2 separate regions of the Homo sapiens genome follow, and region 2 is linked to region 1. The links come from fine-mapping of genetic effects on gene expression. A gene starts in region 1. The other region holds a variant in brackets. All regions are shown on one strand. Distances are between the middles of the regions.

Evidence for each region.
Region 2: its variant is fine-mapped to the expression of UBR3 in monocytes (Fairfax 2014, PIP 0.95).

The regions. Positions count from the first base shown.
Region 1 is chr2:169,820,764-169,837,287 of GRCh38, forward strand. UBR3 (ubiquitin protein ligase E3 component n-recognin 3) reads left to right here and starts at 6,691. Exons shown (of 39, transcript NM_172070.4): 1 at 6,691-7,289. The coding sequence starts at 6,745. It overlaps METTL5 (methyltransferase 5, N6-adenosine), which reads right to left and starts at 4,142. Exons shown (of 7, transcript NM_014168.4): 1 at 3,726-4,142; 2 at 1,180-1,294; 3 at 329-510. The coding sequence starts at 3,834. RefSeq lists silencers at 4,688-4,891, 6,485-7,044, 7,305-7,434 and enhancers at 8,452-8,953, 8,954-9,453.
Region 2 is chr2:170,075,687-170,092,210 of GRCh38, forward strand. It overlaps UBR3 (ubiquitin protein ligase E3 component n-recognin 3), which reads left to right. Exons shown (of 39, transcript NM_172070.4): 37 at 4,128-4,337; 38 at 4,859-4,998; 39 at 6,040-8,445. The coding sequence ends at 6,157. It also overlaps the pseudogene NSA2P5. Among named protein-coding and RNA genes, the nearest start is that of MYO3B, 94 kb to the right of the region's middle. RefSeq lists enhancers at 2,090-2,869, 15,709-16,276. The variant G/A (reference allele first, on the strand shown) is at 7,172.

The DNA.
Region 1 (16,524 bases):
GTGCAGTGGCACATTCATGGCTCATCGCAGCCCCGAATACCTGAGCTCAGGTGATCCTCCCACCTCAACCTTCTGAGTAGCTAGGACTATAGGTGCACCACCACACTTGGGAAATTAAAATTTGTGTGTGTGTGTGTGTGTGTGTGGGTAGAGGCAGGGTCTAACTATGTTGCCCGGGATGGCTACCAATTCCTGGCCCCAAATGATCCTCCTGTATCAGCCTCGCAAAGCACTGGCATTACACGCCTGAGCCACTGCGCCTGGCCTTAAAAATGGTTTTAAAATCTTTTCTATAAATATACCAATATACCCGATTCTTGTTACAAACCTTTATTATTTTTGGTCCCAAAGGGAGGATTCATAATTACTGTATCGAATGACTTGGACATTCTGTTAGATAATAAGCACACATCACATTGAACCATGTCAATATTTGTTAACTCAAACTCTTCTGCATTCCTATTAAATATTTCCAATGCGTCTTCATCTATGTCAAATCCAACACACAACCTATAAATACAAAACACATACAAAGAGTGGCGACTTATAGCTCCCAAGTAAAAACAAAACCAAAATTAGCTGTTTTTTTTTTAAACCATATATCTTTTTAACCCAATTAGCAAAGTAAGAGTGAGTGTTTTCTTCTTTTTTTTTTTCTTTTTTCAGACAGGATCTTGCTGTGCCACCCAGGTGAGTGTAGTGGTGCCATCTTGCACTGCTCAAGCAATCCTCCCACCTCAGCCTCCCAAGTAGCTGGGACCACAGGCGCACACCACCACATCCAGCTAATTTTTGTATTTTTTGTAGACATGGGATTTCACCATGTTGCCCAGGCTGGTCTCAAACTCCTGGGCTCAAGTAATCTGTCCACCTTGGCCTCCCAAAGTGTTGGGATTACAGGCATGAGCCACTGTGCCCAGTCAAGTGTAACAGCATAATTTCCAAACCCGGCAGGGGTTGGAAACTCAGGTTTGTATAAAAGGAACTGCTGCTTTCACCATTTTTATTTAATTTTTGTAGTTTGTTTAGATCTTCTGCCCATTCAAAATGTATTCAGTATCAGATTTTTGCTCCCTATATCTCATTCTGTGGAGTCTCATAAATATAATTCAGTTAATCCCATTGATGCTCCTTATTAAAGCCACCCAATACCCAAATAGCATATATTGCATTACGTACCCTGCTCCTAACATTGCAGTTCCGATGCTAAGTACTCCACAACCACATCCTAGATCTGCAACGACTTTATTTTCAATGTCATCATAAGTGTTATGGATTGTATAGAGCATACATGCTAAAAAATAAAAAAAAAAAGAATAAGTAAGCAAGCCGGTGACTAAAATCTAATTTGTGCAAATGACTCTTTCTAAAATAATTTCTTGTGTTGCATTACTTAGTCCTCCCCAAATGCCATTCCAGATTATTTTTGTAAAAGATAAGGGGTAATGATTTGGTATGTAGTAAGAGGCACCATAAAGGAAGCTAATACCCACCAGTGTTTCTCAAAAAATAGTCTCTGCTAGCAATGCCAAGAATGACAAAACTGTGCCCAGTCTCTGAGGTAAAATAAAAAAAAGTCAAAACGTTTAGTTTTTCCTCAGCTTGTTAAAAACATTGCCATATACTCATATCGGTTCTTTCTTTGATGCTGAAATATTTTTAAGAAAGAATGGTAAGAGTAAATAGTTTTTAAAAAAATCCTTTTTTGTCAACATAAATTTGGCAACTCTATCAATTTCCAAAATTGTTTTGAAATTTTACTTATCTGTGAAATCTATAAGACTAGGAACCACTATCAAACAAGCATTAGCATCACAAAGACATAGAATCTTTTTTTTTCTTTTTTTTTTAAACACAGGTTCTCACTATATTGCCCACGCTGCTCTCGAACTCCAGGGCTCAAGTGATCCTCCCGCCCCGGCTTTCCAAAGTGTTGGGATTACAGACATGAGCCACTGTGCCTAGCCACAGAACTTTGTTTTAACAAGTTTGTCACCAGAACACAAGCACCATAAGCTCCACAATGTAGCCTTTAGACACATATACTCATGATCTACAGACATATATATTCATAATCTACAAATGAGACCTGATAATAGAACTACTGGGTGTTAGATACACACTGAAGGTCAAACATGAATACCACCACCACCGATATTTCCCTGAAGATATCTGAACCCAGCAAGGACTGTTGGCCACTGATTCCTGCGGATCCAGAAGTTTTTTGTTGTTTTTTTTCAGAGACAGGGTCTATCTCTATCACCCAGGCTGGGGTGCAGTGGCGGATCAGAGCTCACTGCAGCCTGAAATTCCAGGGCTCAAGCAATTCTCCTGCCTTAGTATCAGCAGCTGGGACTATAGGCACATACTACCACACTAGGCTAATTTTTTTTTTTTAAGAGCTGGGGTCTCACTGTATTGCCCAGGCTGATCTTGAACTCCTGGGCTCGTCATCCTCTTGCCTTGGCCTCCCAAAGTGCTGGGATTATAGGGGTGAGTCACTGTACTTGGCCAGATTGTTATTATTTTTTAAACTGGATTCCACTAAAAAAACCTACAGTCAGAAGACTAGTAAGTCATTATTTGAGAAAACTGGTCTTAACCTAGACACAGTAGTTTTGTGTGAATTTTTGGTTGGAATCATGACAGTATCTTGGAGTTAAGTGTAAATACACATGTATTCTCCTTGACTTTCATTGACAACTTAGAAACAACTATTTTGGAACTGGAAAAAACTCCTTGCAGGTACTCTCAGAAAATTAATTTTCCTAAGGAGCCAGCCTCAGTGGCTCATGCCTGTAATCTCAGCACTTCTTGAGGCCCCAGTGGGAAGATCGCTTCAGCCCAGGAGTCTGAGACCATCTTGGGCAACATAGCAAGACGCTGTCTCTACAAAAAATAAAAAATATTAGCCAGGCATGACGGTGCATGCCTGTAGTCCCAGCTACTCGGGAGGCTTAGGTAGGAGGATCACTTGAGTCCTGGAGGTCAAGGCTGCAGTTGCCGTGATCATGCCACTGCACTCCAGCCTGGGTGACAGAGTGAGACCCTTATCTCAAAAAATAATAATAATAAAATTTTTTTCCCCTAAGGTTTCCCAATGACTTCGGTAACATAAATATATGTTGTCCTGTATTCTCTCTTGTACTCCCAGTATCAATATCTGGCATGAAGCAACAATGCTAATGCTCAGAAAATCTGTTAAAATATGCATGCTCATCTTTACACAGCACATACTCTGATTTTGTTAAACTATCATTCCACTATCAACTCTGGTATTCATTTCTAGGGCAGAGTATATAGCACAAGAATCCTTGCGTAGGCAATTAGTAGCAATGGGAAACTGATCCTTATTTAGTAAATGTTTACTGAGCTCCTAAATAGTACCAGCGACTCTTCTGGGCACTGGGAATTCAAGTATGAACAAGTCTAACAAATTCCTTGTCCTCAGAGATTGTAATGTGAGAAGAGAAAAAAACACATTAAAAAGATGTCTGGCAGTGTTAAGGGATATGCAGAAAACTAGACAGTAAAATGATAGTGTGTATGTCTGTGGAGGGTGTGCCTTGAGCTGCAGTGTCAAGGAAGGCCTCTCTAACGCGACAGGTGATCTTAGGGCAGAATTTCTCTAGACATTCTCTGTATCCAAATAACTGTTCTATTTTTATCACAGAGTAGACTGGACTAACGCCGAAAGCCGGGGCGTGGTGAACCAGCCGCCCTACCTGCAATGTGCGGCCTGGTAGGATACTGTTCCAGAAGTAGCTTGGGCTTTTCAAATCCATCCACTTGTTGCAGGCGACTCTCTAGTTCCTTAAGCCTTACTTTCTTCATTTTGTTTTAAAGTATGGACTCGTAGGGTTTGAAGGCACAGGATCTGCGGAGAAATCTATTGAACTGGGATCTTGTTTCCTCCCTACCCCCAACCTTCTCCCTTTTTCAGCACCGCTGGCCGGACCCGAAGACGCGCCCTAAGGAGACGCCCGGACGCAGGGCACGGGGCGAGCCTCTGACCCACCTCCCGGCTAACCCAAGCCGCCCCAGGAGACGGCGGCGGCGCACTGCTGGAGCAGCCTCAGGATCCCTCGCGCCACGACCACGCACCTCTGGAGGCGACCCGCACCTCGGCCGGTGCCGGAAGCGCCAGGCCGCACGCGCGCACGCGTTCGCCGCCCAGCGGCCCGGCGCCGAGCTGCAGCGTTTATCTTGAGCCGGGGTTCCGCTGGCCACCTGGGGGCCTCATTGCCCCATCCCCTCCGCCTGCAAAGCCTGCGCTACTTGCTGACCCACCGCCAGTCCTCGCCGCCTGTCGCGTGCTCATTACCCTCTAGTTTGCCATGAGTACCTGCGGGCCCTCAAAGGATGGGGAAAGACAGAGTGAAAGGGATGCGGGAGAGAAAGTCACAGTCACTTTGTTGTATGGCCCAGAGTGACTCTTCTTGTTTCCCAAGTCTCGGCTCAAAAAGTAGCGATCTCCATTCACCTTTACCTCCTTCTCCATTCTCATGCCTTATTTTATTGTAACTTTGTTTCCCAATTTTTAGGTCATTTGTGTCACTTGCAATTCTCACAGGAGTGGTGATGTCAAAGAAACCCAAAGAAGAGATAGTGGAGAGGCAGGGCGCGGCGGCTCACGCCTGTAATCCCAGCACTTTGGGAGGCCGAGGTGGGTGGATCACGAGGTCAGGAGATTGAGACCATCCTGGCTAACACGGTGAAACCCTGTCCCTACTAAAATTACAAAAAAATTAGCCGGGCTTGGTGGCGGGCGCCTGTAGTCCCAGTTACTCGGGAGGCTGAGGCAGGAGAATGGCGTGAACCCGGAAGGCGGAGCTTGTAGTGAGCCGAGATCAAGCTACTGCACTCCAGCCTGGGAGACAGAGCGAGACTCCGTCTCAAAAAAAAAAAGACAGTGGAAATGAAAATAAAAGAATAGGTAGTGGTGTCAAATACTGGAAAGAGGTCGGGCTTCATAAAGTAGGAGCAGAAATTAAGTTGTAGCAGATTGTGGAGCGAATGGAAATTTAGGAAGAAGAAAGAGTAAATGTGAACAATTAAACGTGGCCCCGGAAGCGGTGGCTCACCCCTGTGATCCCAACATTTTGGGAGGCCGAGATGGGCGGATTGCTTGAGACGGGAGTTTGAGACCAGCCTGGGCAACATAAGGAGACCCTGTCTCTACTAAAAATACAAAAATTAGCTGGGTCTGATGACGCGAGCCTGTGGTCCCAGCTGCTCGGGTGGCTGGGGTGGGAAAATCGCTTGAGCCCGGGAGGCAAAGCTTCCAGTGATCTGAAATTGCGCCACTGCACTCCAGTCTGGTCGACAGTGAGACCCTGTCTCAAAAAAAAAAAAAAAAAAAAGAAAGAAGAAAAGAAAGAGAAAGAGAAAGGTGGCCTACGAAAAGAATGGTTGGATGCTTAGTAATGGGGGAAGCTTTATTATTTTTTCAATTATTTTTAAGACAGGAGGAGACAAATTCTGACAAGAATTGAGCTAATAGAAAGAGAGGGGTTAAAAATGCAAGAGGATATTGGATGGAGTTGGGATCCTGAGAAGGCAGGATCCAGTGGTTAAGTAAAAGGATTGCAGGATTGCGTTTAAGCCTGTGGATGGACACCTCTTTGCATTATTATAGGAAGAAGAAAAAGAGTGAATGGACGATGACGAAGTAGAGAAGTGTCTGAGGCTGCTACTTCTAGGAATAGCAGAATTCAAAGTTATCTGTTATGAGAATCAAATGAGTTAAAACATACAAAGTTTTAGCATGTAAAGTTAATACATAAAGTTTTATTTAGTTTATAATTTAGTGATTCGTAAAATTATTGAGCAAATTTAACTTATCACTGTTATATGATGATCGTGACATACTTAACTCATGTAGAAGACCAGGAATAACCTGTTTTAATTATGTTTCATTCATTTCAAACACAAGGTTATGGATTGGAAACACTCCTGTTCTTCTTTGTTGTTGTTGTTGTTGTTGTTGTTTTTAGAGACGGAGTCTCGCTTTGTCACCCAGGCTGGAGTGCAGTGGCGCGATCTCGGCTCACTACAACCCCCGCCTCCTGGGTTCAAGTGATTCTCCTGCCTCAGCCTCCGGAGTAGCTGGGATTACAGGCGTGCGCCACCATGCCCGGCTAATTTTTGTATTTTTAGTAGAGACAGGGTTTCACCATGTCAGCCAGGCTGATCTCAAACTCCTCACCTCAAGTAATCCGCCTGCCTCGGCCTCCCAAAGTGCTGGGATTACAGGCGTGAGCCACCGCGCCTGGCCTTCTGTTCTTCTTTGGATTGCTTTTCCTACAGTTTTTGTTTTCCTTAAGTTGGGGTTTCATTCTGTCGCCCGCTGGACTTTGATAACAGTAGGAATGTACATCTCAGACAAAATGCAGATGCCTAAAGTACATCTGAAAGATGATGTGAATAATTCCTGTAGTCTATGCAAATAAAGAAATAATTGCCCTTATTAAAGATTTCCTATAAGGTGAGTACTTTATTTCAGTAGCTCTTAACTTAGAAAGTTGGGAGCCTAGCTTGGTCCACAGGCGCCCAGGAGAGAGGGGCGGGAGGAAGGCTCTGCAGCCCGAGGGGGCGTGTGTAGGGGCGGGGCTGCGGGCGGAGGAGCGCGGACGCTCCGGGTATCGCGAGAGTTGGGCGGGCCGAGCAATCGCAGCAGTCTATTCCCTCACTCTCCCTGGAGGAGCCGCTGGCCCTGGACTCTCCAAATTCTGAGCTCTCATCATGGCGGCGGCGGCCGCGGCGGCCGTCGGGGGCCAGCAGCCGTCACAGCCCGAGCTGCCCGCGCCGGGGCTGGCCCTAGACAAGGCGGCCACCGCCGCGCACCTCAAGGCGGCCCTCAGCCGGCCGGACAACCGCGCAGGTGCTGAGGAGCTGCAGGCGCTGCTGGAGCGGGTGCTGAGCGCCGAGCGGCCGCTGGCCGCGGCTGCCGGCGGCGAGGACGCGGCGGCGGCCGGAGGCGGGGGCGGTCCGGGGGCGGCCGAGGAGGAGGCCCTGGAGTGGTGTAAGTGCCTTCTGGCGGGCGGCGGCGGCTACGACGAGTTCTGCGCGGCGGTGCGGGCCTACGATCCCGCGGCGCTCTGCGGCCTGGTCTGGACAGCCAACTTCGTGGCCTACCGCTGCCGGACGTGCGGCATCTCGCCCTGCATGTCGCTGTGCGCCGAGTGCTTCCACCAGGGCGACCACACCGGACACGACTTCAACATGTTCCGCAGCCAGGCCGGGGGCGCCTGCGACTGCGGGGACAGCAACGTGATGCGGGAGAGCGGGTGAGTGGAGCCCTCCCCGCGGGCGAGGCGACCCTGGGCCGGGGACGTCGCGGGAGGGCCTGGAGCGGAGCACTGGGAGCCCACTCTGAGCTGTCAAGGGGAGGGTGCGGGGGAGGGTGCAGCCACAGGGGGATGGAGGTGACTGAGCTGTCAGCGGTGGAAAGGGGGTGGGGAGGAGAAGGAGGGGAGAGGAGAGCGGAGAGCATGTTTAGGAAACCGGGCTGTGAATTTTGGGGAAGCCAGGGTGGGTAAATGATAGCGAGAAAAGAGCCAGTGTATGGGGTAGGAGGGGAGTGAGGGGAAATGATTTTTGGGGAAGCTCGTGTCGAGCTGTCAAGTGTGTACTTGTTGGGAAAGGCTGTAAAGCCTGGTTCTTGGGAAGAGACTTAGGTTGTGATTTGGATTGGCTGGGAGGGGATGTTATTGGGGACCGTATTGGCTCGCGGGATGATGAGAGCTGGGGAGGTGGTCTTGTACGTGCAGGGAAGGACGCTTGAGGAAAAGGTCTTCTGAACTGCCAGTGTGTCTGTCACTGTGAGAGAAGGAGCTCTTGAGGGTTGAGGGAGGAGGGAAGGGGAGGGGCCTGCATGAAAAGTGACTGTTGAGCTGTCAGTGGATTATTTGGTATGCTGGAATGACATTTAGAATTGGGCTACTGAGCAGTCAGTTACAGAATACCCTCCATACCAGGAGAACAAACAAAATACTGAGCGAACCAGGAATCAAGTGTTAGGTCTTCTCCAGTTAAGGGCACTTTGTTCACTCACTGATACGTGAACCTCTGTCTAAAAGGAGACAACAAATGCCCTTTTGACAGAAGCGATGCATCAGATGTTGGGACTTATGAGAAAAGACATTTCAGAGTTTGCAGTGAGTTACAGAGAGTTGGTACATGTAGGGTCGTGGCTTGGAACATGATGTCAATGTCAGGGACAGTCTGAGAAAAAAGGAAAAAGTGAAAGGGGCGATTTTGGATGGGCAGTAGTTGAAAGAATATTAGCAACTACAGGTTGCTATCAGTTATTAAACTTCTTCAATTTTCAGGTCTTAGGATTAATGACAGAGTACAATCTTTTTATAAATGGTCACCTTTTTCTTCGGAGTACTTGTAAGGTTACTGTTACTCCAAAATGTTTGTACCTACTATGTGCAAGCAAGGCTTCTTGGATATTAAAAATGAATGAAACATTGACCAACCCCTTACTCTACTTGCACTGGAGTAGAAAGTAATAAATTCCTTAAACAATAACTTGGTAGCTAGAGGAGGGAGATGAGGTTTCTGTGCAGAGGGAGTAAGAAAAAGTCTTCAGAAAGGAGGTATTTTGAATTTGCTAATAATAATAACAACATAATTGCAGCTAACATTTGAGTTTTTTTTTTTTTTTTTTGAGACGGAGTTTCTCTCTTGTTGCCCAAGCTGGAGTGCAATGGCGCGACCTCGGCTCACTGAAACCTCCGCCCCCTGGGTTCAAGCGATTCTCCTGCCTCAGCCTCCCAAGTAGCTGGGATTACAGTCATGCACTACCACGCCTGGCTAATTTTGTATTTTTTTAGTAGAGACAGGGTTTCTCCATGTCGGTCAGGCTAGTCCCGAACTCCCGACCTCAGGTGATCCGCCCGCGTCGGCCTCCCAAGTGCTGGGATTACAGGCGTGAGCCACCGCGCCCGGCCAACATTTGAGTTCTTGAACTGTATGTCTGATACTTTAAAAGTACTTTTTAAAATTTAATATTTGAATAGGTAAAATATATAGCTAAAAAGTACACACACACACACACACACACACACACACACACACACACGGAAGTTTTTCTCACATCTAGTCTTCTATCTGTCCAGTTCCTTCCCGCTTAGTTTCTCTTGGTGCAGAACAAGCAAAGATGTTTCCTAGTTTTTCAGTCTCTTTTTATGCAAAGGGTTACATACTTTCCACTGTTCTACATCTTGCATTTTTTGGTTATCTTAGATGTATTTTTCCTATTAAAAAATCAGTGTCGTCATTCTATTTTTTTAAAAAAACTGCTGCATAGTGTTCCATGTTTTCAATTTGCCATTCTTTAATTTCTTTTTTTATTTTTATTTTTATTTTTTGTGCGTGTGAATTTGCCATTCTTGATTTAATGTCTCTTCATGGGCATTTGGCTTTCCAGTATAAAATTAAAAACGTGGTGTATCTGTCTTTTCCCCACCTGGTCAAGAGAGTCAGTGGGATAAATTCTCAAAAGTGTGATTTCCAAATTGCCCTCCCTAAGGCTTAGTACTAATTACTCTGTGAGACTGCCTGTTTTCCAACAGCCTCATCAACAGAGTAGTAGTAAAATTTTGGACTTTTATCTATTTGGTTAAAAGTGGCCAAATTCTAGCTGTTTTATGTGATTTAACTTATTTATTCTTTGACTCTGAGATTATTACTTTTATTATTCTCATTGTACAGAAGAGGAAAGTAGGGCAGAGTTAAAAACCTTGCTCAAGTTCACACAGGCAGTAAGCTAGGCATGCTGGCTCCAGGGCTCTGGAGCCAGACTAATCAACCATTTCTCTTTACTGCCCCTACTAAATAGCATTCTTACTGGTTTTTCTTTTCAATTCTATGTTTTATCTTTTTTTTTTTCCTTAATATGCTATTCTTATTTGGGCCTTTGTTTCTTTCTTTTTAAACTTTTTTTGTTTGTTTTGTTTTAAAGAGGCACATCAAAACAGGAGTTGGAGCAATCCTTTACTGATATTTAGACATTTTTACTTCTTGGACTGGGTTAGCATTTAGGAAAGCCTCCAGAGAACCTGAAGGTAGGAAATAACACTGATTCTTTCCTGACTTTTGGAATACAGTGGTAATTATCAGGTTGTCGTGGATGAGATGGAAGTCTGATCGCTTGTGATGCTTCAGTGTACTACCAGAAATATGTCAGTGAGTTTCTTTGAAGGTATTCATACAGTTTTAGGGCATCCAGGCTATAGACAGTCAACATCCTAACCTCATGGTATTTGCTTTTACTGGTGTCTCATAGGTAAGTATTATTTTCCCAGTCTGGCAACCCTCTATGAGTTGGTACATTATATATATATATATATATATTTTTTTTTTTTTTTTTTTTTTTTTTTTGAGAGAGAGAGTTTTGCTCTTGTTGCCCAGGCTGGATTGCAGTGGCACGATCTTGGCTCACCGCAACCTCTGCCTCCCGGGTTCAAGTGATTCTCTACCTCAGCCTTCCAAATAGCTGGGATTACAGGGATGCGCCACCACACCCGGCTAATTTTTTTTTTTTCTTGTGTTTTTAGTAAAGACAGGGTTTCTCCATGTTGGTCAGGCTGGTCTTGAACTCCTGACCTTAGGTGATCCACCCGCCTCGGCCTCCCAAAGTGCTGGGATTACAGGCATGAGCCACCACACCCGGCCGGATACATAATATTTAAAGATTTATTATTATCTTTGTCTGAAACCAGAGCTATTGCCTGTATGTGTCAGCAGTTGCCATGTCCAGTTTCATAAAGGGCAAGATTGAACAATAAACAGTATTGTGGCCATGCAATTACTCTGAATTTTTTCTAACTGCTTGGATTGGATAGAGTAATTTTCCTGGGCTATACAGCTAATTTACTGCCTCAAGAGAAATAGGTGATGTTGACCAGCTCTGCAACCTAAAAGACTGCCTCTGGAACCTTTTTAGAACTGGAAATCATCAACAGCTTGTAACAGTGTTCTCATGGGCAAAGCTGGACTACACTGGCATGAACAGAATGTTTGAACTTTTCTAAGTTTTTGGTATTTTAAAAACCCCTTTAGATTGCCAAAGATTGAATGTGTGTTGATTTTGGGGTTTTTATTCTAACTGCCATAAGTTTGTAAATTTCATGGTTTAGTCACTTTTAGAGGAAGGATTCCTTTTTTTCAGCTGTATTTGTGCTCTTAGTAAATGAGAATAAATCTTTCTGTGCCATAATCCTTTTCACCAGTGTCTGACTGTTGCCTGTAGGATGTTCTTGATTGGAGATGGAGAAGAATCTTGAATCTATCACAGCTGTATTTATATTTAATTTTCAAATTAGCAATTATAGAACTGTGGGGAGGATTTAGTTATTTTTGACTGAGTAGTATTGATATAATCAATGTGGCAGTATTAGCAGATATACAAACCAAAGGAAGAAAACAATTGAGGATTCATTTGTGGGATGAAATCACAAAGGCTATGGAAATTGTGTGCTAATAACTGTATGTGGCTGGGCGCGGTGGCTCACGCCTGCAATCCCAGCACTTTGGGAGGCCGAGGTGGGCAGATCACGAAGTCAGGAGATTGAGATCATCCTGGCTAACATGGTGAAACCCCGTCTCTACTAAAAATACAAAAAATTAGTCAGGCGTGGTGGTGGGTGCCTGTAGTCCCAGCTACTCGGGAGGCTGAGGCAGGAGAATGGCGTGAACCCGGGAGGCGGAGCTTGGAGTGAGCTTGGAGTGAGCTTGGAGTGAGATCCCGCCACTGCACTCCAGCCTGGGCGACAGAGCGTGACTCTGTCTCAGGAAAAAAAACAAAAAAACTGTATGTATAACTACAGTTTTGCCACTAGTGAGTAAGTGCAGTCATTGTCAGAAATGCTTTATGGGGGCCGGGCGTGGTGGCTCACACCTGTAATCCCAGCACTTTGGGAGGCCGAGGCAGGCGGATCACCTTAAGTCGGGAGTTCAAGACCAGCCTGACCACATGGAGAAACCCCATCTCTACTAAAAATACAAAATTATCTGGGCATGATGGTGCATGCCTGTAATCCCAGCTACTCTGGAGGCTGAGACAGGAGAATTGCTTGAACCCAGGAGGCGGAGGTTACAGTGAGCCAAGATCATGCCATTGCACTCCAGCCTGGGCAACAAGAGTGAAACTCCATCTGGAAAAAAAAAAAATGCTTTATGGGTGGATGAACTCAAAACAAAATAACCTGTAATGGAAAGTCTAAAATACACTCGTTCCTCAGTATATGGTATACATAGGAGACTGGTTCCAGAATACCCACCTCCCACCCACTCTTCAGGGTATACTGAAATGCTGCTTATATGAAAAGTCTGCCCTTCATGTATGTGAGTGTCAGATCCCATGAATTCTGCATTTTTGATCCATGTTTAGTTAAAAAAATCCTTGTATAAGTGGACCCTTGTAGTTCAAACTAGTGTTGTTCAAGGGTCAACTGTAATGTCTGACTAGCTGGTTTTGGGCTCTGATGGGATACTAACTGGAAACTGGGATTTTAAACATTTAGTTCTCAAATTTTGGTGCAGAGAATGAGGAGTTTCATGTTCTGTCCTATATTACAGATATTTTTGTCTCCTTGCTTGTTCTTCCTCACATATTCTAAGCTCCTTAAAAGATAAGGACCACATTTTGCTATTAGCCAGAGGCCAGCACCTACTAAGTCTCTTGTACTTAGGAGGTGTCAGTAATTTTGAATTAAATTGGATAAAAAAGTGGCTGCTATACCCAAAAAGTTACTGTAAGATTACATTGCTTTAGTTACTCATGAGGTGGCATTGATTATTAAATCCATAGCAGCTTTTTTCAGAGTGCTTTCATTCTTTTTTTAGTTTCAGAAGTAATACACATTGATTATAACATAAAAATAAGTGGATAAAGTAAAAAGTAAAGGTGCCTTTCTCCATCCTACCCCTCAGTAAGAAATTTCCTTTTCTTTTAAGGTTACTTATGTGTTTAAAAGAGATTAGTTATAATTTATCCAGCATTTCTAGATTTTTTTTTTTTTTAGTGACAGGTTCTCGCAGTGTCTCCCAGGCTGGAGTGCAGTGGTGTGATATCACAGCTCACTGCAGCCTCTACCTCCCAGGCTCAAGTGATCTCCCACCTCACCCTCCCAAGTAGCTGTGACTGTAGGCGCACACCACCACACACAGCTAAATTTCTTTTTGTATTTTTTGTAGAGATGGTATTTCACCATGTTGGCCAGGCTGGTCTTGAACTCCTGGCTTCAAGCAGTCTACCTGCCTCAGCCTCCCAAAGAGCTGGGATTATAGGCGTGAGCCACAGTGTGGTGCCTGGCCTGTGTTGTGGGAGGTTTTTAGGTTTTCTGATCTGTGGTAGCCAGAAATTGAACCACGTGAATGTCTGGTTGAATAGTGTTACTCTCTTCAGTAGCTTGCTTTTTTCCCCTTAACATATTTATGGATACTATCTCAAAAGTAGAACTGCTTCATTTTTAAAGTTAAATAGTATTTCATTGTATTTCCATGTTTTTGTAATGTACTATGATTTTTGCGGTCAGTCCCTACTGATAGACATTTAAATTGTTTCCAGACTTGGGCTGTTGTAAACATTGTTGCAGTCAGTATTCTTGTATACACTTGTTCATATGTGTGTGAGCTTATGTATGAGGATACATTCCTAGAAGTTATATCTTGGTTGAAGGAAATTTGCAAATTCAACTTTGATAGAACCCTCCAAAGAAATTAATTTACATTCCTGCCAACAATGTATGAAACAATTTGTTTCCCCATATTCTGGCAGTATATATGGTGGTATCAGTGTTTCTGATCTTTGCTGCTCTCATAAGTGAAAAGTTATATCCCATTTCATCTGTTATCTCCCTGTCCCACTGCTTTTTCGTCCCAGCCAGGACTATTTTGAAGCAAATATCAGATACCTTATAATTTAATTTAAAAATATTTGAGTATGCATCTCAGTAAAGAGATGTGAACTCTAAAACATAACTCAAATGTCCATCAGCAGATGAATGGGTAAGCAATATGTGGAATATACGTACAATGGAATATTTAACCTTAAAAAGTAATAAAATTCTGACACATTAGAATGTTACAATGTAGATAAACCTTGAAGACCTTATGCCAAATGAAATAGGCCCAGCACAAAAGAACAAATGCTTGTATGCTTCGGTCTATATGAAGTGCCCGGAATAGTCAAATTCATACAGACAGAAAGTAGAATAGTGATTATCAGAGGCCAAGGGAAGGGGAGATTGGGGAGTTATTTTTTTAACAGGTACAGAGTTTCAGTTTGGGAAGATGAAAAAGTCCTTGAGATCGATGGTTGTGATGGTTGCAAAACAATGTGAATGTACTTAATGCCACTAAAACTGTACACTTAAGATGTTTTAAATGGTAAATTTTATGTTATTTATATTTTACCACAATTAAAAAATAATGTCAGGTATGGTGGCTCGCACCTGTAGTCCCAGCTACTCCCGAGGCTGAGTTGGGAGTATTGCTTGAGGCTGGGAGTAAGAGGCTGCAGTGGATTATGATCACACCTGGGAATAGTCACTGCACTCCAGCCTCAGCAACATGAAGTGACCTCATCTCTTGAAAAGAAAGCAAAAAACAAACAACTCCCCCAAAACCACAATACCAATACTACACCTAAAATATTCATATTTTGTTTGTTTGTTTGTTTTGATATGGAGTCTCACTCTGTTGCCAGGCTGGAGTGCAGTTGCATGATCTCGGCTCACTGCAACCTCTGCCTCCTGAGTTCAAGCGGTTCTCCTGTCTCAGCCTCCCTAGTAGCAGGGACTACAGGTGCATGCCACCATGCCCAGCTAATTTTTGTATTTTTAGTAGAGGTGGGGTTTCACCATATTGGTCAGGCTGGTCTGGAACTCCTGACCTCAGGCAATCCACCTGCCTTGGCCTCCCAAAGTGCTGGGATTACAGGCGTGAGCCACCGTGCGTGGCCTAATTTTTAAATCATTATAAAACTCAGTTAAAACTATTTTCAATTATGAAACAATTTGAATTTACAGAAAAGTACAAAAGTAGTATAACAGATACCTTTGTACTTACCATTGAGATGAATAGATATTAACCTTTTGCCATGTTTGCTCTAGAGTTGCTTTTAGTCAAAAAACCAAAGAAAGGTCAACCCACCTTTCCCTTTCTCTTTTCCTCTCCAGACGTTAACCATTTTCCTGAAATTCCTGTGTGCACTGTCTCTCTCTCTCTCTCTCTCTCTCTCTCTCTCTCTCTCTCTCTCTCTCTCTATATATATATATATATATATATATTTTTTTTTTTTTTTTTTTTTTTTTTGAGATGGAAACTCGCTCTGTCCCCATCAGACTCAGGCTGGAGTGCAATGGTGCGATCTCGGCTCACTGCAACCTCCGCCTCCTGAGTTCAAGCAATTCTCCTGCCTCAGCCGCCTGAGTAGCTGGGATTACAGGCGGCCGCCACCATGCCTAGCTAATTTTCATATTTTTAGTAGAGATGGGGGTTTCACCATATTGGCCAGGCTGGTCTCGAACTCCTGACCTCCGGTGATCTTCCCGCCTCAGCCTCCCAGAGTGCTGGAATTACAGGCATGGGCTACCACGCCTGGCCCCACCAGGAATTTGAGGTCTTGTTTTTCTGCTTATTGAAACTTGGTGTTAATGAGAACACATGGACACCACGAAGGGAACAACACACACAGGGGCCTGTTGGGTCGGGGGCAGGGAGAGGGAGAGCATCAGAAAAAATAGCTAATGCATGCTGGGCTTCATACCTAGTTGATGAGTTGATAGGTGCAGCAAACCACCACAGCAACCATTTACCTATGTAACCTGTACATCCTGCACATGTAATTCAGAACTTAAAAAAAAAAAAACCAAAAGACACTTGGTGTTATATATATAAATTTATAATATTTTACCAATCTGTTGGATACAAACATCTTTTTAAAATTTATATTTTCTTGACTAGTAAAGTTGAACATCTTTTCATATGTTTTGGGGCCATTTGGGCTTCTTTCTTGGTGAACTGCTGGTTCATATTATTTGCCTGTTTTGTTTTTCTGTTTTACTGAGTTTTAAGAATGCTGTACATACTCTAGATGCTGATCCTTTGTTGTATAAATACTTAATTTCATCTTCTAGTTTGTGTCTTGTCTTTTTACCTTGAAATATATAATTTTGTTGTAAACGATTTTAAATTAAAAATGTAGTTTTTCTTCTACAGTTTGTATTATTTGTATCTTGTTAAAGAAATCTTCTTCACCTTGGTTTAAAAAAATGCTTATATGTTTTCTACTGAAAGATTTAAGGTTTTTCATTGTACACTTAGGTCTTTTGTCCATCTGGAATTTATTTTTACATGTAGTATGAGATTGAGGTCTGTATTAGTCTGTTTTCGCACTGCTATAAAGAACTGCCTGAACGGGCCCGGAGGCTCACGCCTGTAATCCCAGCACTTTGGGAAGCCGAGGCAGGTGAATCACCTGAGGTCGGGAGTTCGAGACCAGCCTGA
Region 2 (16,524 bases), 250 kb after region 1:
CTGACCCTAGGTCAACCAGATTCTCTTTCTCAGGAATGTTAAATCTGTATAGCGAGACTTAGCAGGGTAAATGGTGACAGGAGCTGTATAGTCCAACAGTACTACCCTTGAAAAACTGTCTGTGAATTACTACTTCTGAATTTTTTTATCAGTTAAGATTCTTTGTTTGGGAACAACAAAATCCAGTTCTGATTTAAAATAAGGAAAACCAAAGCAAACTATGACAGAAAAAAAAAAAAAAACAGGATTCATTGGAAGCATACTTGGTAACCTGCAGAATTGAAGAGCTTAACTGTCATCGCTTGGGAAGAAGAGAAACCACAAATATCTCTGCTCTGTTTTCTCTGAAGTGCTGCCACCAGATAACTAAGCCTCAACCATTTTCCTTCCTTTAATTTGCATGCTCAAGGTTCAGATTCCTGGGAGAGAGAATCTGGTTGGCCTAACTGTTGTAATACATATACCCCAGTGGTGGGGCAGGATCTTGTGTTGGGGACAGCCCCATCAGAACTGTACGGAGCAAGAAAAGGGGTTATTTTCTAAAAGAACTTATAATGTTATTAATATAAGAAAGCAGCAAAGGATGCTAGGAGGATTTAAAAAACAAACTAGTGGCCCACTACTTTCACATCTTACCTGCCTGGCTCATACACACCCTTCTTCTCATTCACAGTTTCACTTCTGCTGTTGAAAATGATGTAACCATTTTACTTATGACTGCAAATGCATCTGTGACTTTCCCAAATAAGCAACCTGATGTCACATATAGTCCTTACATCATCAGGCCTCTCTGCATCCAGTAGCTCTGAGAGATGTCCATTGTTCCTGTCATTTGTACTCACACCCAGATGGCCTGGAAAATTTTAATTAGTACCTGCTCACCCTGAATTCAATAGTAAGAGAATGAAAATGTTGCAAAGATATATGATACAGTAAGCAAGATTTGCAAGTAGTCATAAAGCTGCAGCTAATATACAGTCAAATATATATGACTTTCTTCTTTTACCATCCGTGATCCAGCACACCTCAACGGATGATTGGATTTGTTTGAGCAAGGATGTGATACCAAACTTTATTCTGAAAGGGCTGAGCTTCTGGTGATTGGTCCTGTCTTTGTTTCTATAAGGCTGTAATCATTCTGTGTTAAATTTCTGCCTTTCAAGCTTGGTCTATGGTAGGGGTGGTGGTAGGGGTTTTTAAGTTCCAAAATATTGCTCTACCAATTGTATGGCAATATTTTTATTCTTCTTGATAGTCATGGTCAATCCCTCCAGGCAATGCGATAAGCCACCCTTGTGATGTTATAAACCGTACTAGAGGTTAGACAGTACATAGCTTGTAAATCCGCAGAAGAGTCCGGAATAGCAGTGAAGCAGAAATTTAAGACCGAATTTTTTTTTCCATTTTAATGTTTACAATTTAATAAATCTCTTGATTGCAGACATGTAAGGCTGTTTGGTAGTATTCAGAAACATCACAGTAATGGCAGTTTTTTCAGTTGGTGTGTAGTCTTCAATAAATATCTATGAAAGTGCTGTCAGACCAGTAAGACTGCATTTATACATCCATCATTTTCAGGATTGTTGGTAACCACAGCCTATTTTCCCCAAATAACCTTGCCTCCTTGTGTCACAAGGCCCAACTCACATTCACCTCAGTAACAGTACCTTTGGTAATAACATCCAAAGTTATATACATTGGGAATGAGGGACTCTTCTTTACACCAAGTATTGTTAGGCAAAAGGTGGCTTTCAGTTCAGGATGTGTTACATGGGCTTTCTTGAAACGCAAGCCCATTGGCCTGATGAATCTTCCATAGATAAGTAGTTTTCTTGTAAAGCCATCTCCAACAAAGCAGACTTTAGTAACCATCCTCCTCTATGCCTGCGTCTTTCTCTTTCCTGTTGGAATAACTTTGAGACAGAGTCTCACTCTGTTGCCCAGGCTTGAGTGCAGTAGAGCGATCTTGGCTTACTGCAACCTCAGCCTCCTGGGTTCAAGTGATTTTCCTGCCTCAGCCTCCTGAGTAGCTGGGATTACAGGCGCCTGCCACTATGCCCAGCTAATTTTTGTATTTTTAGTAAAGACAGGGTTTCACCATGTTGCCCAGGCTGGTCTTGAACTCCTGACCTCAAATGATCTGCCTACCTTGGCCTCCCAAAGTTCTGGGATTACAGGCATGAGCCACTGCACCTGGCTCTGTTCAAATAACTCTTAACACTTCTGTATCTCCCTGGGCAAGTTACATTTAGACAGAGGGACTTTCCATTTTCCTGCTTTCTCTTTTCATTTCGGCTTAATCATACTGGGAAGTACGTTAGCTTGAGGTTGTCCCTCTCTGTCCAGCAGATAGGCAGGTACTGCTCCCTGTGGAGTCTTTCTTTTGTCTGGTGTTTCTCTTTTCATGCATCTTGATGGTCTTTTTCATTTGTATTTTCTCAGCATGGTGCTGTTTAAGATAAAGCTTAGCCTTCAGACCAATCATTTTCTTTGACTTCTTTGAATGTTCATAAGCCTCTCAACTTTCCTTCTTTCCCTTTTTCTCATGGTAATCCAAATGATATCCATGGCATTTACAGTGTAATTCAATATATTTGATCTGTGGCATGGCACAGGCGCAGCCCCTGGGGTGCGAAAATGCTCTCAATTTTTGGGTCTCAGAGACCCACGAGTGAACTCCACACAGGCCGCAACAGGAAAGGCAAGACCGAATTTTAGGTGTAATCATGAGAGGTGTTACAGCTGTTAAATACTTTCCACCTCTTGTTTCCCATACATATGCATTCCAATTGTGAAAAAGGTCACCCATATATACTGGTTGCTGTTTAGAGCATACACATTCTGTAGGTGATTTCTTCCAGCTGGTGCCATCTAAAAGTTTGTAAATTTCATGAATTTCATAATTTTTGTGGCACTGAAAAAATCAGTTTTGTAGTTCATGATTTAAAATACCACAGCTTTTTTCAGATGATTGAATATATGTTAAGATCAGTGAATTCCATGGACATCCACCTGTTGCCTTACATCTCTCTTCATGAGGGAAATTATTGGAGGTAATGTGCTATGGGCTACTGGATAACATGCAGCCTAACCTATAATAAGTGTCAAGTTCAGTGAGGACAAATTGTTATCCCTTCCCTTTAATGGAAGGGTTCCACTGTAATCAACTCATTACAGAATGCCATCCTTGGAGTCCAGGGTTGGGTGCTGAGTATTGGCAAATGATGTATTGTATACTGTTCTTATCATTGCTTCCATGGACACTTAATCCATGAACTTGTTGATGAGGAACAAGCTAGCTTAGTTACTCCACTGATTTAGGTGGATTATGGCTGCATGTAGGTAATGTGAGATGATCTCCATTTAAATTGACTATTACTTACAGTTTCTTAAGATAATAGACTCACTCTACATTTTATCTTTTTTAAGTGTGAATGGAGTAGCATCTAGAAAAATTTAGTGCTGCTGCCAGTATTTTTATACAGCTGCAAATAGTTAATAAAGCATACCCTTCAGGGAAATTTAACTAATTTGACAATTTTTTTATTCTTATAGCAAGACATTTATGAAAAGAATTGTAGCCCAGCACTTATGGATATAAAAGATCTTAACAGCTTGAGGTGCAATGAATTGTACATACTCTAGGAAAGCAATTCTACATTATAAAGTATTAAAGTAGAAAAAATGAGTTATAACCATGATCTGTCCTAAAGAAAAAGCTAAAGAATTGTTTGAGAATGATCAAAACTTGGTTTTAAAAAATACGTAACTTTTAAAAACCTTTGCACTATGCATGTTTAAAGTCAAATACAATTAGATGTATTTTCCCTGCATGCTTAGAGATGGTGTTTTTCTTTTAAAGTAATAACAAGTTTAAATGTTTTAAGGTGCTTAATCTAAAAAATTAAATCATACTGTAATTGGAAACTATAATACATTAGATAATGGTAACTGTTGAACTACTATTTTAGTCATGTATAAGATGGAAATGAGAGGAGTGTTAATAAAGAAAATAAGCCACATTCTTGGAGGCAGATTTTTCTTTCTGTAAAAATACATTTAAAAAATATATTGTGTTAGTGACTTAAATACATAAAACTAATGAATATTTTTGGATAATGTTTTAGGCCTTGCTTATCCAAGAGTCAAAATGGAAATTACCACACCTACTACAGTTGCCTGAGAATTATAACACCATTTTTCAGTACTACCACAGAAAAACCTGTAGTGTCTGCACCAAGGTTCCTAAAGATCCTGCTGTTTGCCTTGTGTGTGGTACTTTTGTATGCCTGAAAGGACTTTGCTGCAAGCAACAAAGTTACTGTGAATGTGTACTGGTAAGCAATAGTAGATAATACAAAATTTATGAAAACACAGATCTCATATCACAAAATATGGTCAAGCCATCTCTTCATATTAACTACTCTTTGAATTAAGTATATAATACATATAGGGATTGTGTGTGTTTTTTAATCCAGTAGAAGAGTAAAAAAAGAAAGTCTTTGAGGCTTTAAGTGAGTAAATCCTTCCTTAAGTACAATTCTAGTTCTCCTTTCATCTACTATCCCTTTAATGGTATGTACTTTGGAATGTGCTGTGAAACAGAAGTCATCTGTGCTGTTGAAGATACTAGACTCTGAATTAGGTTGGCTCTTAATTGCTTTACTAGATATTCCTTACCCAAATACCTCCTAATGTATTAATAATAAAGTGTTAGGAATGGAGTTATAAGTTTAACTTAAATGAAATCTTACTATTTTTAAATCACTGTATTATTTAGAAGGCATTAATATATTCTTGATTTTATTATAAAGCCTATTTGATTATGAAGTTCATTAATATATTTTTAATTTTTTAGCACTCTCAGAACTGTGGTGCAGGAACAGGTATTTTCCTTTTGATCAATGCATCGGTAATTATCATCATTCGAGGTCACCGCTTCTGCCTCTGGGGTTCCGTGTATTTGGATGCTCATGGAGAGGAAGACCGGGATCTTAGGTTAGATGTTCATGGATATATCCAGGTGTTTTATTGAAATTTGGTCAGTGAAAACCAATATGCTATTCCTGGCTTTGTAATTACAATTTTTTTAATATTAAGAAATTCTGACAGTCATTAATTTAGAGCTATTTCTAGTTTTTGAGCTATTGTCCCTATCAATACGTTGAGGAAACATGAAATACACCAAATTACCATGTGAGGTTTTTGCCACAAAGAATCCGTTGGCCAGGCCCAGTGGCTCACACCTGTAATCTCAGCACTTTGGGAGGCTGAAGCAGGATTGCTTGAGCCCAGGAGTTTGAGACCAGCCTGGACAACATAGTGAGACCTCATCTCTACAAAAAAATAAAAATAAATAAGCCAGGTGTGGTGGTCATACACCTGTGGTCCCAGCAACTCGGGAGGAGGTGGAAGGATCGCTTGAGCCCAGCAGGTGGCGGCTGCAGTGAGCTGTGATCGTGCCACTGCACACCAACCTGGGCAACAGAGAAAGACTGTCTCAAAAAAGAATCTAGTAAAAAAAGAAATGTGGTAGGTGTGGTGGCTCACGCCTGTAATCCCAGCACTTTGGGAGGCCGAGGTGGGTGGATCACTTGAGGTCAGGAGTTCGAGACCAGGCTGGCCAATATGGTGAAACCCCGTCTCTACTAAAAATACAAAAAATTAGCCGGGTGTGGTGGCGGGCCCCTATAGTCCCAGCTACTCTAGAGGCTGAGGCAGGAGAATGGCATGAACTCGGGAGGCGGAGCTTGCAGTGAGCCAAGATCGTGCCACTGCACTCCAGCCTGGGTGACAGAGTGGGACTCCGTCTCAAAAAAGAAATAAGTAAATAAAAAATAAAAAAATAAAAAAAGGAGGCAGGCATGGTGGTGAGCACCTGTAATCCCAGCTACTCGAGAGGCTGAGACAGGAGAATTGCTTGAACCCAGGAGGCGGAGGTTGCACTGCGAGAGACTGTCTCAGAAAAAAAAGAAGAAAGAAATGCATGTGAAATCTTCCGTGTATGATATTAATACTTTTTTTTTCTTTTTGTTCTAGGCGAGGCAAACCTCTCTACATTTGTAAGGAAAGATACAAAGTTCTTGAGCAACAGTGGATTTCTCATACTTTTGATCACATCAATAAAAGATGGGGTCCACATTACAATGGGCTGTGACTCTCCACCTCAGCATTGCATCGTATCATCATTTTCGCTACGAATTTATTTTTCAACAATAAGCTTTAACTTAATTTGGGGGATTAACACTTTTGCTGAGGGAGAAAAAGAAAACATACATTATGAAGCCTTTCCAAAATTAGGTGCTTGGTAATCACGTTAATGGTATAATTTTTTTTTTTTAATATCTGGAGAACATTAATAACAAGTTAAATTATTCTTTAGTGGTCATTTTTTAAGTGCACAATTAATAAGAAGCACAACTTGTTCACAAACTCATTCAGAAATGATTCTCCCAACAATGCGTATCAGCTATTCATTGATACTTAGAGTGGGTGTGATTTATTTGACATTTTACTGCTTCTTTCTGTCTGTGTGTTTTAATTTGCATCTGCCAAGCATAATGCATCTTTTTTCCTCTGCCATTCTTGTGTTGATTGGAGAATTTTTCTGTATGTAATTAGAAAAAAATGTAAAACATGATTTATGTGAAATACTGTATAGTAAAAGTTGGTCTAATAGTAGAACTTTAAAATTTTTTCTTATTGTGAGGAATCTGTTAAAAGTTTAAAGCTTTGCTGAAAACTGAATTCATTCTCAGGAATTTCATAAATCTTCTCCCCAGGTAAATAATTGAAATAGCTGTAAAATAAGTAGATAGCTGCTGTTAATATAATACAGTACATTTTGGGGGGCATATGTGTGGTTGGGGGGTCCTTAAAAATCAAAATTTGCCATTTCAGTTGGATGAATTACTAGAGGTAATAACAAATCTTACTATGAAATCAAGAGGTTTAAGAACATACACTGGGCAGATGTTGATTCCGTGCATGCCCACCTTTTATTACCAAACAAGGTTTTGTTTATATGATTGTATTAGAAATGCTCAGACTTCCCCAGAAATGAACCATAAATTTTGGAACTTCCTTTCAGCTCAAGAGGTTCAGCTATATTGTATTTGTGCAGTGTAATCACTACTATTTCTGCTCGGTTTCCTAAAAGGAAAAAAAAGGC[G/A]CAGTGGTGATGACCCTCATGAATGAGCCACGCTTCTGCATTCTTCTTAGAAACTGCTGTGAAAAACAATTTATGTTTGCAGGGTTTAAAAATCAGTAAAAATGGGAATGATTGAGCTAAAACCCACTCTATGAGAAGGAAGATTACTGAAAAGCATGTGACATATTGCTACAAAGATTTTTTTTCCTAAATGATTCAGTAATTGAATGATTATTTAATATATAGTGCTATCAAGCAATCCCTGGTACTTTGGACTTCCATGGCTTGTTATATAAAATTACATTTTTACATGTAAAAATAAACTAAACAAATCTAATGATAAAATATGTCAGATCCATGTTCTAAAAAATTTTTGTAATGACATGACATTACAAGAGTATAAAAATGGACATTAAATCATGGCCTTGCATTAAAATATGGAAAGCAGAGCAGTACATATTCAAATGTATTCAGAAAGTCAAAAGATTACCTATCGTTCTACAATAAAATACATGGAAATAGCTTGCTATTTTTATATACATTTCCAAAATATTAAGATAACTTTCTGTAAGAGTCAATGATTCTGTTCGACTAAATAGCTGTCCTTTCCAACACATTGCTACTTTTTTAAATACTGTATCATAAGTTCAGCCTGTCATACTTTTTGCATTGATCGTTATGAATACCAGACCATTTGTAAGTGTGGTTGAAGAGCAAAATGCTAATTGACATCTCTAGTAAATACTGTTACAGGATTCATGAACTTGAATAATTCTACAGTTTGAAACTCTGATGCTATATATACATGGTATAATGTATTCAGACTTTGATTACTACTTATTTAAAATGGAATGTTTTATGGTTGTGCATATGGATGTGAAGTGAAAATATTAGCCTTAACTTTAAAATTTGGGTGTTTGATAGTGTTTATTTTGATATTGGTGAATTAGTCACCAGTAAATTTTAAAAAAGCACTTGGTTGAAAATTGTACTTGAATACATACATGCATGCTGCTAAACTAGAACTTTAATTTTTCCCCATAACTTTTATAAGTCCCATTTATAAACCCACTTTTAAAAATAACAGGTCCAAGTTAGAGTGATGTGTGTATATTATTCAAAAAAATGTACTGGTGTGATATCTTGTATGAATGATCATTTAAATACAGTACATTACTGTAGAAGCTAAATTGATCTTTATAATTAAGCAGAAATTACAAAACTAGGAATAATCAACATTGTAAGATATGTTAATAAAAACCTGCTGTCATTTGGTTTGTGAAAGGTCCTTAAAATGTTTACTGCTTACATGTTTTTTTTTCCCCCAAAGATATTGACAGTAATATATGTGAGTGAACATGGCTGAAAAGATCAAAGCACAACATAATTAGTAGTTGCTTTAGGGTGGAGTAAGTGTAAAGGGTTTGCTTTGCTTTTTTTCTTTTATTTGCAGAGTGAGTTCTTGCTTCTTCAGTCCTTGTCTCATAATCAATGCACATTCTTTGCTAAGTGTGTGTGTTTGGTAGGGGGAGAAGGAAATGGGTATGTAGATCTGAGGAATTGTGATCTCTGTTCTTTTCTGAAAGTTCCCAGCCAGACTTCAGAAATGTTTAGTGCTTTATGAGAATGTTTATTTTGAGTGGTTTGCATTCTTGTTTGAATTGACAGTCCTCACCCCTACCTCTCCATCCTGAAGCTCACCAGCCATTTATCAGCTAGCAGTCCATTTCTCTTCAGACCTTTCTCTGTTTTATGTATTCCGATATTTACTGATTTCTGTGACTTAGAAAAAGATGCTGACTAAAAGCACTGAAGGCTTAGAGGAAACAGCAATATGGGAAGAGATGTGGTCTAAGACTCTCTGTATTATCTCCAGGATTCTAATTGCTGACTCTCAAATGGCTGTTGATGGCTTATATTTGAGATCATATTTGGGGTTGGGGGGGACACAAAGCATGGTTTTAACCACTAGAATCAAATCACCGAGAGAAGATGAATTCATTGGTGAGGATGCCTGATGATTGATGATTGTGGGAGAGCAGATGACTTATGACTGTGTCTCAGTCCCATTCACAGCACATAGTTCTTTCCTCTGCCTTATGATCTGGCTAGATGATATCAAGCACTGCTTAGTTCAACAGGGATGAGCTGGAGTGGGCAAAACAGCAACATGATCACTTCTCTATTTATGACACTTCAAGCTCCCTATTAATTAGGCATATCAGGTATGGAAGAGCTATGACCTGCCATCTTAGTGTACAGTACAAGTAGTGGAATGAATGTGACTTCAGCTGATGCAACACAGTGAAAACACACAATGGAACCTTGTGTAGAGCTGCCTTTGTGCAAGTTAAATTAATGTAAGATGTGACAGTACCAAAATCAGTGAGGTAGAGCCCAAGAGCAGACCAGAAGGAGTGGGGTCAAGAGCACAGATAAAAGCTTCAGGTTGAGGGGAAAAGATACAAGAGAAAAGGAAAGAAAGTCTAGAGCAAAATAAGAGGATTTGTGTCTGATTCCCTCTTCTCTTGGTGACAAAGGAGCAGGATCATGTACCGAGAGTGAACAGGCCTAGCATATCTGGGGGCTTGAGATAAGTGGCAAAAGCTTAGACATATGCTAGGAGAGAGAACAGGCCAGAAATAAGGGGAAGCACCACTGAAGTTATATTGACAGCCAAGTGGGGTTAGAAAACCTAAGTTTAATGGAGCCAGTTAGAAAGATTCTGTAACTTTGTGGAGCCCCTGAGTTTAGCAGCTTAGGACCTGAAGGATAGAAATTAGACTGCTAAATTAACTGGGGTTTGGAGACACGGATACAAAATGTAAAGGATGCAATATAAGTTAAGAGAATTAGGGGAGCTGGTTGAAATGAGTGTGGGGTTCATGTTGGATTTGTAGGGGCGTAGGATTGGAAGACACAATAAGATTTAGTAAGACAATGAACTCTTTCAAAGTTTTCTTTTGAACTTACGCAAAATTGCTGCAATGTTGAAGCATTTAAATTCGTTTATTTAGTAAATATTTATTGCACTCCTCCTGTGTACCAAGCACTATGATAAATACTGGAAATACAGTGGAAAAGAAGTCAGATAGTCCCTTCTCTCACCTCGCTTTCTGTATGATTAGTGTTACAAATGGTATGTGTGTTTGGAGGAGAAGAGAAGTAGAGTAGAAGGTGCTATAGATGGACCCTCTAAACCAGACTTGGGTGTATGAGGAGGCTTCCAGTGGGGAGAGATGATGATTCCCAAATATTGTGTAGGTGATATCTGGGTGAAACAAGTGTGGAGAGTAGTGATTCAGGCAGGCATAGAGAATATTGTTTGCGACGAGTTGAGAGAGCACTTGTGGATGTGAAAGGGAATCATTTTGACTGTAAGCATAGGTGCTTTTGAGAGGTAAAATCTAAATTACAAAGAGTTTTGTAAGCCATGCTGAGGGTTTTAGACTTTTTTAGAGAGCAATGGGAAGGCATTTTAGGGCTTTAGATAGTAGAGTGACATCAGATTTGCATTAGAAAAGTCAACCTGGCTGCACTCTGGAGAAAAATCCACTAGAGTGGAGAAACCTGCCAGGCATCTGTTGAAAGACTCCAGATAAAACATGATAGTTGGCTCAAGTAGGGGAGTTGTGGTCGGGACAGAGAGATGTGGACAGTATCTGAAGAGAGTTGACAGAATGCAGTAACATGAGGGACGGCCAAGAATATTGAGTGCCTAAGGTGTGCCAGATACTAAAGTAAGTTATAGGGATCCCACGTTGAACAAGACAAAGGGTCAGTGTCTGCCTACAGTCTGGTGGAAAACAACACTGATTATGTGATTACAGTTCAATAGGATGTTATCAGCAAGTTAGTCTATGGGAATCAGTAGACTCGTTTAGTTTGGGAAGTTCACAGGTTACATGGAAGAAATGATGTTTAAGCCAAGACCTGCCTGAAAAAGTGAGCTAAGTGAAGAGGGAATGGGGGAGGGCATTCTAAAGAGTGCAGCACATAGACCCTGAAATAAGAATAAGGAGGGTTGCACTCAGGAAACTGAAGGAAGTACAGTATGGTTGAAGCATAGAAAGCAGAAGAGCATGTGGTAAGAGCTGTTGCAGGAACAATAGGCAGGAATCAGATCATGGCTTCCTGAGTAGTGTTATGGATGTTGGGCTTTGTGGCCTCTATTTTGGTTATTACCTCAGTTTAGAGCAGAGGTCAGCAAACCTTTTCTATTTTGGTTATTGCCTCAGTTTAGAGCAGCAGTCAGCAAACCTTTTCTATAAAGGGCCAGATGGTTTCTGTCACAACTATTAATCTCTGCCAGTATAATACAGAAGCATCCTAGACGTACACACACACACACACACACACACACATATGCATATGGATGTGTATGTGTGTGTGTGAATGGGCATGGCTGTGTTCCAGTAAGACTTAATTTACAAAAGCAGGCCGTAGGCCAAGAGAATGAGAGGAGGGGAACAGGAACATTTGGGAAAACCATTCAGGAGGGTAACTCAGTAGCCAGAGGAGAGATGAGGATGGTGTATGATGTATACTAGGGCAGTGACAGAAACCACTTATGTTCTGGCCTGATGGTTGGTTGTGTTATTTCATGAGCTAGAATCAACTTTATCCAGGTATAAAGTTGAATGTGATATGTACAGATTTTGACCAGTTGAAAGTGAGGCTTTTGTGAGTCATCCAAATGGGGATGTGATAATTGATGGGTTTGAAGGGTAGATGCTCAGGGGAGTCATCACCAACAAACTGTAACTGAAGCCGTGGGAATGGATCTCATCCAGAGAGAAAAGGGCCTGTGGTAATACCCTTAAATACTATCTTCATTTAGAGGACAAGCAGAAGATGGTTAGCCTGAGGACAAGATTTATGAGAGACGCAGATAGGAAGGAGAAAATTTGGAATGTGAAATCCTAGAAGGAATTATGTTTTTTTTTTAAAAAAAGGAACCAGTCAACAAGTGTCAAGTTCTGTGGAGAGGTTAAGAGCCAAAATGTATTCATTGGATTTTGTGACAAAGGAGGCAGTTGATATCCTTGATGAGGATAGTTTTGGTGACGTGGTTGGGGTAGCAGCCAGAACATGGCTTTTGGAGGTTACAAAGTAGAAAATTTGGCAATAAAGTGGAGGAGTAGAACACACATTTCCTTACTCTCCCTGGCATGGTCAGGACTTCTGCAGGACACCTGGACGTGTTTGCACCAGAACCTACTTCTAATTAGATGTTGTGTTTAGTCCGATGGTATTGTTTACCATTTGAGTTACTTCTCCTTACATGAGTATATCAATTAGGAATGTGTCCTGTTTCAAGCCACAGAAAACCTGACTAAGAAATGGCCTAAAGAAGTAAGGAGTTTATTGGTTTCAGGCAAAAGAAAGGCTGAGGCAGACATACGAGGAAGGGGCTGCGGCTCAAGGGAATCAATATGGATCTCAGCTTCTCTTGTTTTCCTTTTCCATACCATTAGATTATAGGTTTTATCCTCATGGCTGCAAGATGACTGCTAATATCCAGGCTGCTATGAGGATGAAAGCGAGATAGTAGCTCACCTCATTTTCCAGGCAGGATAAAAGCAAATGGGCCAAAAGCCTTTTCCTAAGCCTTTATCCTGTGCTCAACAAGAGAAGCCCTTTCCTGGTGCACTTGTACATACACCTCTTTAGTCAGTAATGGTAGGTGGCCGCTACAAAATGCGAGGAAATCTGGAGGGGCCGGGGGGGGCGGTAATTTTAGCTTGCGAGCTGCTGTGCTAGAGGAATCCAAAGGCAAAAAGGATTGTGAGTGGCTTTTTGGTGGCTAATTCAATATCTGCCACACTTTGGTTTCTTATCTGTGCAATGGAAACAATAGCTAATGTGGTGATTAAATGAACATAGACACTGTTGCTTCCAGTAATGGCAGAGTAAGTGATTCAGACTGTATTAGTTGTCTATTGCTGTGTTTCAGATTACTGTAAAACATAATGCCATGAAACAGTACACATTACATCACAGTTTCTGTGGATCAGGAATCCAGGAGCAGCTTAGCTGGGTGATTCTGGCCCAGAGTCTTTTACAAGACTAAATTAAGGCGTTAGCCACGGCAGCAGTCATCAGAGGCTTGATCGGGGTTGGAGAATCTGTTTCTAAACTCACTCATATGGCTGTTGGCCAGAGACTTCAGTTTCTCGCCATGTGGGCCTCTCCACAGTGCTGCTAACAACAGCAGCTGATTTTCCACAGAAGAAGTGACCCAAGAGAGGGAGACACAGAACACATAAGAAAGCATGCCTACAAGGAAAGCCTCGGTGTCTTTTATCACCTAATCTTAGAAGTGGCATATTATTTCTGCCAAACATGCCAACCCAGAGACCATGTAGGAGGCTACACAAGAGTCTAAATACTGGGGGGAGGAGGGATCATTAGGGGCCCATCTTACTGAAGAAAAAATGCCAAATGAGTGGGCAAAAGTTGAAGAACCAGGTTTGCATTGTTTCGTGGTACATCCCTCCAGGTACATATGAATTACAAAGGGAAAGATTGTAGCTTTACAGAAGAGAAACCTGATAGATAAGTGATTAAAGTTCATTATTACCAGTAAAGACTTAATAAACCCCTAAATATGATTCACTGAGAAGTTATATAGTATCATTACTGCAATATAACTGCAAATGTTGCATAACTTCATTATAATCATGTAAAAACATAGGAAAAAGTCAACTGAAGGACATTCTACAAAATAACTTACCAGTACTCTTTGAAAGTGTCAAAGTGAAAGAAGAGGAAAAATCAAAGAATTGTTACAGACTGTAGGGGACTGAGGAGATATAACTAAATGCAATGTGAAATCTTGGACAAAATCCTGACACCAAAAATAGATCATAGTGAGAAAACGCAAAATCCAAATAAAGTCTGTTGTTTAGTTAATAGTATTTAGCTAATTTCTGATTTTGATGATTGTGCTATGTTTCTGTGAATTGTTATATTAGGGGAAGCAGAGTCAAGGATATACAGGCACTCTGTGCATTATTCATGCAACTCTTCTGTATATCTAAAATTTATTTAAAAATGGGAAGTTTTTTTAGAAAAGACCAATAACCTAAGAAAGCTTTCCTCAAATAAAAAGACCTGAGTTCATATTGAAAGAGCCCACAGAGTACCAGGAAAATTGATCATCAATAGTAAACTTCAAGACATACCCTAGAAAAACTATTTAACTATAAAGACAAGTTCCCAAGACTTACAGAGAGAATTAGACTGGGTATTAGACTTTTCACAAGCAAGAGCAAGGCAAAATTGAGCAGAATTTTCAAGAACACCTCAAGGAAAGAAAGTGTAAGCCAATGATTTTATGTAAGGTCATGCTGTCCTTCAAGTATCAGATCATAGAAAAATAGTTTAAAGTATGCCTATGTCAGTCTTTCCAGTGAAAATCTACTAAAAGATTGGCTTCATTTAACCACAAGTAGACTGGAGGAAACTTCAACTAGACTGTTGAAGTGGAGGTATTAATTGTACTCCAGCTCTAAAACAAAATCAAATCTTGGTCACAGACTGCTATTACTCTCCAGTGCCTGGAAAAAAATATCCTCTCTGGAGACTGATGACATCATCCTAATTCTCAAACTATTTCTGAAAGTGTTTCAGGTAAACAAACATGATGAGACAATACACAAAAGCCAGAATCAATAGAAAAATAATAAAAACAGATCACAGGGACTCCAGTTGTTATAATTACTTGACTCATGTAACTTTTTATTTGAAAAAATTTTAGAGATTCTAGTCCTGAAAAGATAACCAAAAATAACTAAATGGAGCTGTTTATCAGATGAAATACAGCTAAAGAAAGACTTGGTAAACTGGGTTATAAATTAGAAGGAGGCATATAGAATAGAGCACAGAGACTAAAAGATGAAAAAGGAGTAAGAGGTAAAAGACATAAAGCACCCTGTGAAAACACCAAACACACTTGTAATTGGAGCCTCAGGAAGGGAGAGGAGAGAGAATATGGCAGAGACAATATTAGAAGAGATAATGGCTGAGAATTTTTCAGAAGTGATGAATGACATTGAACCATAAATTCAGGAAGTTCAAAAGATCACAAATAGGATAAATGGAAAATAATCCATACCTAGAGAAATAATAGTGAAACTGCAATGAATAAAAAGTATCTTAAAAACTGCTCAGTGGAAAAAGGATGGATTACCTCAAAAGGCCTCTGTCTTCTTAACAGTAACATTGGAAACAGAGCAATAGAAAAATATCCTCAAAATGTGGAAAGAAAATAACTCTTAACTGAAGATCCTCTACACAACAAATACTCTTCAAAAATGATAGCAAAATAAAGACATTAAAATAAAGATGGAGAGAATGTAACAGCAGCATAACCACACTAAGGAAGGAAAACACAAAAAGAGTTTTTGGGCAGAAGGAAAATAAGCCCTGCTGGAAGATTAAATTTTGGCAAGAAAATAAAAATTGTGAATATATGTATAGTATAACTAAATGAACACTTTCTGCATAAAATGATTATGATACTGCATTATATGGGATTTCAGTATGTATGTATGTTGGTGTTTAACAGAAATGTAATAAGACGGGGATAGATGTTCCAAAGTCCTTGCATTATCTCAGAAAATGGTGAAGGTTAATATTATACTTAGGACATAGTTTTAAGTCCTTGTTGCCTTAGATTAGGCAATCATTTCTTAGATATAACATCTAAAGCAGGGAGTCCCTAACCTCTGGGCCACGGACCCATACCAGTCCAAGGCCTGTTAGGAACCAGGCTGCACAGCAGGAGGTGAGTGGCTGTGAACAAAACTTCATCTGTATTTACAGCCACTCCCCATGGCACCCATTACTGCCTGATCGCCGCTTCCTGTCAGATCAGTGGTGGCAGCAGATTCTCATAGGAGTGTGAACCCTATTGTGAACTAGCATGTGAGGGATTTAGGTTGCTTGCTGCTTATGAGAATCTAATGCCTGATGATCTGTCACTGTTTCCCATCACCCCCAGATGGGGCTATCTAGTTGCAGGAAAACAAGCTCAGGGCTTCCACTGATTCCACATTATGGTGAGTTGAATAATTATTTCATGATATATTAGAATGTAATAATAGAAATAAAGTACACAATAAATGTAATTGCTTGCATTATCCAGAAACCATGCCCTCGCTCCAACCCCCCAGTCTGAAAAAACTGTTTACCACAAAACCAGGCTCTGGCACCAAAAAGTTTGGGAACCACTAATCTACAAAACACAAGCAATTCCCCACCCTTCAAAAGGAAAAATTTGACTTCACCAAAATTTGAAACTTTTGTGCTTCAAAGGACACTATCAAGAAAATGAAAAAACAACCCACAGAATGGGAGAAAATATTTTC